Regions from separate parts of the Homo sapiens genome. Here region 1 is linked to region 2. The links come from fine-mapping of genetic effects on gene expression. A gene starts in region 2. The other region holds a variant in brackets. All regions are shown on one strand. Distances are between the middles of the regions. Region 1 overlaps KLHL6 (kelch like family member 6). Region 2 holds the start of KLHL6 (kelch like family member 6).

Region 1 (5,378 bases), 63 kb before region 2:
ATTAGAATGAATTTCCAGTGAGCTCATTTGAAAGCTGTAGCTCTTACAGTGAAGGACAGATTCTGTTCTTTAAGTCACAATTGAGCTACACTGATCAAAAAACCAAGTAGAAGTGCTTTTTAAAAGTCTTGAAAACGAAGGCTTCAGGAGGATGGGGTATCAGGAACGTGGACCTAAATCACTGTGTAAAAACTAGAAAGTGTACCATCAAGGAGAATCTGTCGCTCCTGTGTAGGCCAGCTGTGCTCAGGTGTTTACTTTTTTAATAAAACAGTAGTTTGAGTCTCTAGAGACATCTTGTCTATATTGCAGTACAACTGGTGAACACTAAGAGGCCAGGGCACCAGAATGTGCTAAAGGTACAATTCTGTCTGGCAATGACAGTTCCGGTCCAAAATGGGCCATCTTATGATCATTTAAAAAAAAAAAGACCGGGCCCAGTGGCTCACACCTGTAATCCCAGCACTTCGGGAGGCCGAGGCGGGCAGATCACAAGGTCAGGCGTTCAAGACCAGCCTGGCCAAGATGGTGAAACCCCGTCTCTACTAAAACTACAAAAATTAGCCAGGCGCGGTGGCAGGTGCCTGTAATCCCAGCTACTCAGGAGGCTGAGGCAGGAAAATCACTTGAACCAGGGTGACAGAGGTTGCAGTGAGCCGAGATCATGCCACTGCACTCCAGCCTGGGCGACTTCATCTCAAAAAAAAAAAAAAGAGGGTTTCAATGGGAGGAGGACAGAACACAAGTATTTCATCTCTTTCAAAGCAAACAGGCCTTCCCAAGCCCATCCCCCAGACCTTTCAAGTGGAAGAACCTATGAGATGTTCTTGGCAAGGAGCCCAAATGACTCCTTGGTTTAAATATTGGTAAAGGGCGGGGACGAGGGAGGATGCAGAATAAGAAAGAAAAGGAAAGAAAGCAGGAAACACCTTTATTTCCCTGCTGTGCTGAGTGAATCTTTTAGCAGACTTGCCGAAACAAGAAATGAGCCAGGTTTCTTTGTTTTTGTTTTTGTTTTTGTTTTTGTTTTGAAGACAGAGCTTCACTTTTGTTTCCCGGGCTGCAGTGCAGTGTGGCGATCTCGGCTCACTGCAACCTCCACCTCCCAAGTTCAAGTGATCCTCCTGCCTCAGCCTCCTGAGTAGCTGGAATTACAGGCGCCTGCCACTGCACGCGGCTAATTTTTGTATTTTTAGTAGAGACGGGGCGGTCTCACCATGTTGGCCAGGCTGGTCTTGAACTCCTGACCTCAGGTCATCCGCCCGCCTCAGCCTCCCATAGGGCTGGGATTACAGGCGTGAGCCGCCACGCCCAGCAAGAGCCAGGTTTTGTTGTTGTTTTTTGTTTGTTTTTCCTGCTCTGAGATAGGCAGCATGGTGGAAAGAGCATTGACTTCGGAGATGAAAGACCTGGATTTTAGACTCCTGGGGTAGCTACTTGCTATCTGAGTGATCAGGGGCACGCCACTTAGCCTCTGTGAAACTTGGTTCCCTCACCTGTAAACTAGAAGTGATAAGAGCCAGTCACCAGGTTAAATGAACCGATAAAAGGAAGTGCCTGGCACAGAAGCCGGCATAGGGTGGGTGGGTCCTGAATGCTAAATATTACTCTTCCTCGCCTCCCCTCCTGAGGTAGGTCATGCAAACATTCCTGGCCGGTCTCAAGTGACCCCAAACTGTGACTTCCAAGGTTCCCCCAAAGTGAGTCAAGGGGATCCCCTGATGTATGGCCTCAAACTCGAGCCTGCTGCCTGAAGTGGGACTGGAGGAGGGTGAGAGGTGAGGCGGGTACGCTGAGGGTCGGGGGGGCTCTCCAGCTCCCCATCCTGCCGTCAGACAGACACTGCTCCGGGCACGATCCTGCGGATGTGGGTGTACGACTTCCTGATGGTGACGCTGCCGTGGTGCGACACGCCCCGGGGCAGGACGCACTCCTCTGTCAGTTTCTGGGCCTCGGGGTCCCAGCACAGCACCGTGGCGATAACCTCGTTCTTCTCGTCCCGCCCGCCGGTGATGTAGAGCCGGTTGTTGCAGGGCGCGATACCGCAGCTGGCCCGCTCGTGGCTGAGCTGGGTCACCAGGCACCAGCTGTCTTCCAGCGGGCTGTAGGCGTACAGCGCTCTCATGGCCCCACCTGAGGAGAGGGAGGAAACACGGTGGGCATCGCTCCATTTTTCTGGTTTCTTCCCTCTTAACCACTAAAATTCAACTTCTGATTAGGCCAAGTCTACCCTCTTGCCAAGAGAAACAGTCGATTGATGGCTCTCCTGAAAGCCAGAGTGGGTCCTAGGGGCAGTGAGTTGCCAGCGCTGGAGACACCGCGACACACCGTTTACGTGCTGCAGCCAGGCGCTCATCAGGTTCTAAGCCATTCAGACCAATAAGAAGCCATTACTCACCAACGACATAGATGCGGTCCCGGAAACTCACTGCATTGATGCATTTAGCCTCCACGGGCATGGCCGCCTTCAAACTCCACTTGTTGGTGGAAGGGTCATAACACTGAGTCTTGTCTGTGGCCAGTTTCCCATTGGGCCCTCCCCCGATCACATACAGCTTCTTCTTATGGCTGGTGGCTGCAAAGGAACTGACATGGACAAGGAGGGGTGCGGCCTGTAGAGGCACAGGGCACAAGAAGAAGCTGTCAGTCATGCTGCCCAGATTGCTGCAGTAGCTCCCAGGATACAGGACAGAGCTCCGGGACACAGAACTGGGCATCTTTTGCCTATAGTCACAAGGCCCATGGGCTTGACTCCTCTTAAGACACAGCAAGAATGAAAGCATGCATTTCCCACCCTCCCTCCAGGCTCCACGCAAGCTAGAGCAAGCTGTGTGTTGGGATGTGCCAGCCTCTCCCGGAATCCAGCTCTCAGGCAAGAATAAGTTTATACAGATGAAGTCAGCCAGTGTGGGAGGAAAATGATGTTTTATACATGCATATTCATATTCATTCATGTGCTCATCCACTCGAAAAATATTTATGGAATGCCTACTATGTACCAGCATTGATTTTCCTTGGTGCTTATATCTAGGAAGAAAAGCTGAAACGGTGGCCACAGGTAAGCAGACTCTTCCATTATGGGGCAGCA[T/C]TGAGGATTTTGAGATTAAGTCAGACGTGTGCTTCTATCCTGTGAACCCCAGGACAGTAAAGGAGACTTCCAAGAGCCTCTTGCCCATTTATTTACAGGATCCTTTTAGATCGTGGAGCAGCTCTGTGATAGGGCTTGTTTTGAGAAGATCCTGGGCATGTCCCCCATACATGTTAAGGGCTCTCAATATAGCACTTTTCAGGCTGACAGTCTTGGCTAGATGTGGTGACCTGGCTACCTTTGCTTGTGCCTACAATGACTGTGTTGTACATTCCATTAAGCTGGAACATGCTTGGACATCTGATCTGATAAGGAGAAAGAAAATTTGAAACTGGGAATAACCTGGAAATGAGATGAGGTGGCTTTTCTTTTCCTGGGTCTGATATATACCTGAGGTTGCATTACTAAAGTCTGACATGCAGGCCTGTAAGTGGCTCATCATCCATGGGAAAATAAAGAAGGGATGATTTCTAACATGACCAAATCACTCTGGGTTCATAAACGGTGTAGTAAAGTGATCCGCATGTGTCCAGTGTGGAGAAGAATAGGAGAGAAGGCATCTGAGGAGACAAGACTCTACACCAAGACATGCAGACCAAGAGATCTCCCATCTAAGGACAGGGTGAGCCTCTGTGCACATCTGGGGTTCTGTCCAAATTAGGACAGGTGCCCACACAGACCTTCACCACTTGGAAGGACATTGTTTCTGTGACTTGATCAGCAATACTGAAGCAATAGCTCCTAGGAGGAGGGAAGCTCAGAGCCACCAAAACTGTTCTCCTTGGAAGTAAAGTGATCAGAAAGCTGACCACCACGGCAGGCACGTTCCAAAGCTTTTTAAAAAAGCACTGAAGTAATAATACAGGCAGTTACTGGTAGAAATCGTGTCCTATACCTCTGACCAGCAGTTGTGAAAGGGGTCGTAGGTCTCCACATTGTTGATTCTCTGTAAGCCGTCAAAGCCTCCGATCACATAGACCTTGCCACCCAACACCACCATCTTATGCCTCCAGCGGCCTATGTTTAAATACTCAATCTGAATCCACTTGTTGATCGAAGAATTATATTTCCAAACATCATGCTGTGTTTCTTTGCCACCTGCAAGAGATACAAAGCATTTAAGAAACCATCAGATGTGTCAGAAATACAGCTTCTCCCATAATATCCCACATGTCCAAAAGTGCCAGGTCCCCAGGCCAGCCCTACCCTGAGGGGAGATACAAGAAACCCAGCAGGTGTGTGATGTCTGGCAGGGGAGATGAGGCAAATGCAGGGGAACAGGGAGAGACAGAATGGATGATGTGCCACACTGTGTCATGTCCACCTCAGTGCTGCGAGAGTTCAGAGAAGAGGTGGCTAAGTGAGCAGTGCCCTGAGAAGGCTTCAGGGGGCAGGACCCAAGCCAGCCTGGGTGGGTAGGGACCAGAGGGAGCCTGGACTCAGTGTTTGCCCTCACAGGGAGCAGGAAGCAAGGCTGGGCGGGGACAGTGGGGTTTGTGCAGAAGGCAAATTACATGGCAGCTTAAATTCTATGTTTACTTTTTATTTAAACCAAAAAGCAAAGATACAGACCTGGAAAAATCACTAAGAAATCCTACAACATTCTCCTGGTTTGTCGCTCTGATCTGTTTAAAACAATCAGTGGGATTTATCCTATTTCTAAATAATTTTTGTTATAAAAGTATGAGATGCTCACAATAGATCATTTGAGAGTGATCTGGTAAACATTTTCTTGAAGGCAACTCTCTTAAAAAACAGAAAATACAAAATTCAGCAGCTGGGGAAAGAGACAAAGACAAAGGAGAACTGACTTTTTGGGTGATTTTAATCAAATATTTAACAGCTTTGTGTTTCCATTTTCCCATCAGCATAGACTACCACCAACTACTTAAAGCAAAGATTTACTTTTCAGACTTACATGTGTGCAATAGTGGAGAAATGAACATTACTGACCACATTCTGTGTCAGGGGTGTTTCTCTAGCATGGAACCCAGAAGTGGGTTTACTAAGTCAAAGCCATGTGCACCCTGAATTTTTATAGGTGCAGCCAAGGCATCCTCCGCAGCTGTGGTGGTTGACTTTTCCTCATACCCACTTTTTGTTGGTGGTGGTGGTTTTGTTTTCTTTCTTTTATTTATTTATTTTTTTGAAGTCTGACGGAAAAAAACTATGTCAGTTTGGTTTTCGCTTACTATGAGGGAAGCTGAGCTTCCTCTTCCTTGAATCTTTTGTTCATATAGTTTGGCTATTTTCCTTTGGGTGGGGTACCTTTCAGAGGTCTCCATTTATT
Region 2 (5,378 bases):
AGACTCTTTGACCTCCCTAAACCTGAGCATACGAAGAACCCCTTTCAAAACCTCAGACACAAAGCGAGAGAGTGTGTCAGATTTAACGTCAGTCCTAGGTCTAAATCCCAGCTTGGCTACTTTTTATTTGCTGTGACACTCTGGACTTTGGCTCACCGTCGGTAGGCTGGGGATAGGACTCCCTGCCTTGTCAGGTTGTTGTGAGGGTGGAGTGGACTAGAGTATGTGATACAGAAGCTACAGGGCCTGGCCCACAGTAAGCGCTCCACAAACAGGAGTTGATAGGAATAGTAGCACCGGAAGAAAGAATCCTGTCTCCAGGACAGTATTCATTGTAGAAGGAAAGTCACGTTGAAAATCCCAAGAGAAGAAGCAAAAGTCACTTCTCTGAAGAGAAGAATTGAAGGAATTTCCTCTCATGACCAGGCAGTTTTGGGAGAGGCTCTGTATACACAGTCAGATGCCTTCACCCTCATGTTCTCCAGCTTCTCATTGCCGTTGCCTCCTCTGACGACCGGCAGAGACTTTCCCTAAGTATCCTGGATCAGCAGGGCTGGAAGGACCCAAGCCCAAATTCCCATTTAGGATGAGAAACCCAAGAACCAGAGAAGACCAGTGATCAACTCGAGGGCACACAGCCAGCGGGCCTGGTCCACAGCCAGGCCAACCCGCTAACAAAACTGCTTCCAGGTATGCATTTTATGATAGCAAGGGATACAAAAGGATCAACCTAAATGTGCGTCCCCAGGGCATTGAGCTAACTTGACTTCACTCACTCCTGAGAGGGGCTGCAGTCAACGTGAAAGCACGTGATCAAGGTTGGTGGAGAAAGTAATGTGTTTATATCAACCCATTTTGATGGCTGTGTTTACACTTTATATTTTACACACTTCCCATGGAATGAAGTCCCAGACCTAGTGGCAGCTTGCATTGCAGTAACAAGGATTTCCAGAACATACCCAGTCCCTGCTCCAGCAATGACCAGATATATAATGCTGAGTTTTCATTTCCTCATCTGTGAAATATCAGCCACCTTCATCATGCTGTTACAAAAATAAAATCAGATAACTATGTCTGTCTGGCACACAGCAGCCACTGCTTCCCTCAAACCCAGATATCCCCTTGTCTTATCAACACAGGAGACCTAATGAGTCCCACAGCAACCTGCTGATCCTGCTCTATGAATTACAAAGAAACGTTTCCCCCCAAGCACCTCAAAAAAAAAAAAAAGAAAGAAAGAAAACGCTTTCCATAATACTTTCATAGGTTAATCGTTTTCAATTTCCTCAGCCAGAATCAAGAGTTAAGAAGAATCTCATTAAGAAGAATTCTAAGGGTATTTCTTTTCAAGTTCCCAAATACTTTCTTCATTATCCACATTGCCCTTGCAGGCTGGTTCCCCCATGTCCATGCTGATATGGAGAACACTGGATCAGGTGTATTCACTGGGTTCCCAGCGCTATAAAATTCCTACCCCAGGGACGTGCTCATGGGAAACACTCAATAAGTCATCCTTAGCTGAATCAAGCAGAATCAGAAAAAGAATTCCAAGAAAGATATATTGAGCATCTACTTACTATATGCTAGACACTGTGTAGGACCCTTTTCACGCTCTTGTTTAATTATGACAGCCCTGAAAGGTGATCATCATTGTGCTCACCTTACAGATGATGAAACAGACATTCAGAGCACTTTGTGACTTGCCTAAAGTTTCACTGTCAAGAAGGAACCAAGTCTCCTGACTTCAGGCCTTCCCACTATGAGATCACCAGTTTATCGTAACTAGAGGCCTCTCCCATCTAAAGCATCTTTGTAACTGCTTTCCCTTTCCCCACACTGCCTACACATAAAGAAGCCCCTAATTTGTAACAAGTCATTTGACAACTCCAGAAGAGGGGCCACATCCTTTTTCTCTATGTCTGTTGATTAACAAAGACAACATTATGTTTCCAACACCAGTCAGACCAAGGGGGAAAAAAGTCCCCATGACTTCAGTAATTTTCCATCCTTTGGAACAAGGAAATATACACAAAAGGTTTACTATAGAATGTAAGCATTGCTTTTAAATGATGCCAATCTCTCTTTTAATGTGGCCTAAATCCTAAAATTTAAAGTGTGATAAGCCGGGCGCAGCGTCTCACACCTGTAATGCCAGCACTTTGGGAGGCGGAGGCGGGTGGATCACCTGAGGTCGGGAGTTCAAGACCAACCTGACCAACATGGAGAAACCCCATCTCTATTGAAAATACAAAATTATCCGGGTGTTGTGGTGCATGCCTGCAAATCCCAGCTACTCGGGAGGCTGAGGCAGGAGAATCGCTTGAACCCAGGAGGCAGAGGTTGCGGTGAACCGAGATTGCGCCATTGCACTCCAGCCTGGGCAACAAAAGCAAAACTCCGTCTCAAAAATAAATAAATAAATAAATAATAAAATAAAGTGTGATAGTGTCCTTTCTTATATTTTAAGTAGACACACAAGCCTTAATATATATGTAAACCATAAATATCATGGCCAACTGTTCAAGATTGGGCTCTCACACTAACACACCTCTTCCTTGCAACTTGCACCCAATTTGACTCTGGTCCTAGGCATGCTGACCTGAAATAGTTGCTGGCTGCGGCAAGCACCACGCGGTGGCAGGAGAATTCCTGAATGTCCACACACAAGATGACATCTGTCAGAGCGTTTTCCATTCGCAGGGTTTCCAGGCCATTCTGAAGAATTAAGGAGAGTCCCGCGTCGTCAAATTTGACCTTTTCCCCATTTAAGATCTCGACCAAGTCTCCTGTTTTCTGGGAGGGCTCATCTGTAGAAGGTGCCAGGGGCCCTTCCAAACTCTTCTCGACCACATCACCCATGGTCCAGGCGCCCCTTTGTCCTGCCATCAACATCGAGACTGAAGGAGCGCCCAAGTGTCAGGCAGGCCCCATTGCAGGAGCTGAGCGGATTTCCTGTGCAGGGCCCTCCACTTATCACCAGCTGTCACACACACATAACAGGAAGTCTCGCACTTTCTCATCCTGTTACTACAAATGCCAGCAACTTCTATTCTTCTTCTTTCTGTGAGTAATCACAGGGTTAGAAATTACTTAGAATAGGTGTGTGGGAGGGGGTTCTGGAAGAGGAGTGTCCTCTCAGAGTCCACTGTGAGTGCTGTGTGTTTATTTTGGTGCATCTCCCACCTCATATCCGTGAGCAGGAAGCCTCCGGTGGTGGCTGTTACATTTGTACTCCTAATGCTATCAATAACCCAAGTCGTCAATGAGGGGATGGACAGGAGACAGTCTATAATCCTCCTGCTTCACATTTGTACTCCTAGTGGCTCAATAACCCAAGTCGTCAGCGAGGGGATGGACAGGAGACAGTCTATGATCCTCCCACTTCCTCCTCCCAGGAGTCTGAGACCCCACAATGATCCAACAACCGTGCTTTGTAAACCATGGAAACCCCACTTATCCCTGACATTCTCATTTCTGGCGGCACTGCAGATCGTCTATCTTCATCCTCCTCCCTACCCAGGGGAAAACAACGTCATGGCAAACTTTCATGTCTTCCCCCACCAAAAAAAATGTCTATTGTTTCGAATATGCTTTGGGGGCACAGAAGAAATGGTTTCCAAAACTCCATCAACAGCATCTTCTCAGAGGATGAGTCAGGGTGGGTCTACACCGAATTGCCATAGCACGTCTCAGATTAGCCCAACATCTACTGACCGTGCATCTAACGGTGGATCCTGAAGTATTTTCATTACCTCTGCATGTCTCAGTTAAGTAGTAATAACTGTCATTATTAAAATCCCATGATATCCTGGGGAAGTTATAGGAGCGTATCAGTTAGCGTTCTCTCACGCCCAACAGTAATGCTTTACCAGGTTGCTAGGTATTTCTTAGCCCAGCAAACTTGACATCTAAAATTAACCATTACAATTACAGTCATACCCAGCATAATGATATTTCAGTCGATGATGGACTCCAGAGAGACAGAACCAAAAGGATACCTAGAGAGGCATAGCAGAGGGAAATTATTAGGGGAATTGGCTCACGTGATTATGGAGACTGAGAAGTCGCATGACAGACTGCTGAGAGCTCAGTTCAAGTCCAAAGGCCTCAGAACCAGAGAAGATGGTATAACTCTCAGTCCAAAGCCAAAGGCCTGAGAATCCAGGGGGTGGGGAGACTGGTGTAAGTCCTGAAGTCCAAAGGCAGGGGATCCTGGAGTCCTGTTGTTCAAGGCAGGAGATGACTGTATCCCAGCCTCAGGAGATAGAGACATCGACCTTTCTTCTGTTTTTGTTTTCTCTGGGCCCCTGGCTGATTGGATGGTGCCCACCCACACTGAGAGTGTATCTTCTCTACCGAGTCCACTCAGACTCACTAATCTCTCCTGGAAACAACCTCACAGACACGCCCCATGGTAATGCTTTAACAGGTTGCTAGGTATTTCTTAGCCCAGTAAACTTGACATCTAAAATTAACGGTCACAAGTACAGTCATGCCCAGCACAATGACATTTCAATCGATGATGGACTGAATATACAATTGTGGTCCCAAAAGATTATAATGGAGCATATAAAGAAACCTGACGGCCGGGCGTGGTGGCTCATGCCTGTAATCCCAGCACTTTGGGAGACCAAGGCAGGGGGATCACAAGGTCAGGAGCTCAAGACCAGCCTGAGCAACATGGTGAAACCCCCATCTCTACTAAAAATACAAAAATTAGCCAGTCGCGGTGGCGTACACCTGTAATCCCAGCTACTTGGGAGGCTGAGGAAGGAGAATCGCTTGAACCCGGGAGGTGGAGGTTGCAGTGAGCTGAGATTGTGCCATTGCACTCCAGCCTGGGCAATAAGAGCGAAACTCTGCCTCAAAAAAAAAAAAAAAGTCATGGAAAAATAATGCCATTCACAATGGTAATAAAACATATGTAAATGCCTAGCAATAACAGCAACCAGCAACATAAAGAAAACTAACAAACTTTACTAAGAGTTTCGAAAGAAAACTTAAATAAATATACCAAGTTCCTTTATGGAAAGACTAAATATTATTAAAAGGACCAATTCTTTCCGAATACATTTATAGGTTTATTTTACTCTAATAAAAATTACAAGAAAATTTGGAGTTTAGGTTTGTTTGTTTGTTTGTTTTTGAGACGGAGTCTTACTCTGTTGCCCAGGCTAGAGTACAGTGGTGCGATCTCAGCTCACTGCGACCTCCGCTTCCCAGGTTCAAGCGATTCTCCTGCCTCAGCCTCCCAAGTAGCTGGGACTACACGCATGCACCACCACACCTGGCTAATTTTTTGTATCTTTAGTGGAGACAGGGTTTTGCCATGTTGGCCAGGCTGGTCTTGAACTGCTGGGCTCAAGCGATCCACCCGT

What was found. PIP is the estimated chance that this variant, and not a neighbour inherited with it, causes the effect.
Region 1: its variant is fine-mapped to the expression of KLHL6 in whole blood (TOPMed, PIP 0.92). The same link has a PIP of 0.9 or more in spleen.

What each region holds. Positions count from the first base shown.
Region 1 is chr3:183,490,096-183,495,473 of GRCh38, forward strand. KLHL6 (kelch like family member 6) reads right to left here. Exons shown (of 7, transcript NM_130446.4): 5 at 3,984-4,186; 6 at 2,399-2,612; 7 at 1-2,133. The coding sequence ends at 1,832. Among named protein-coding and RNA genes, the nearest start is that of SNORA63E, 39 kb to the left of the region's middle. The variant T/C (reference allele first, on the strand shown) is at 3,089.
Region 2 is chr3:183,552,762-183,558,139 of GRCh38, forward strand. KLHL6 (kelch like family member 6) reads right to left here and starts at 2,945. Exons shown (of 7, transcript NM_130446.4): 1 at 2,600-2,945. The coding sequence starts at 2,892.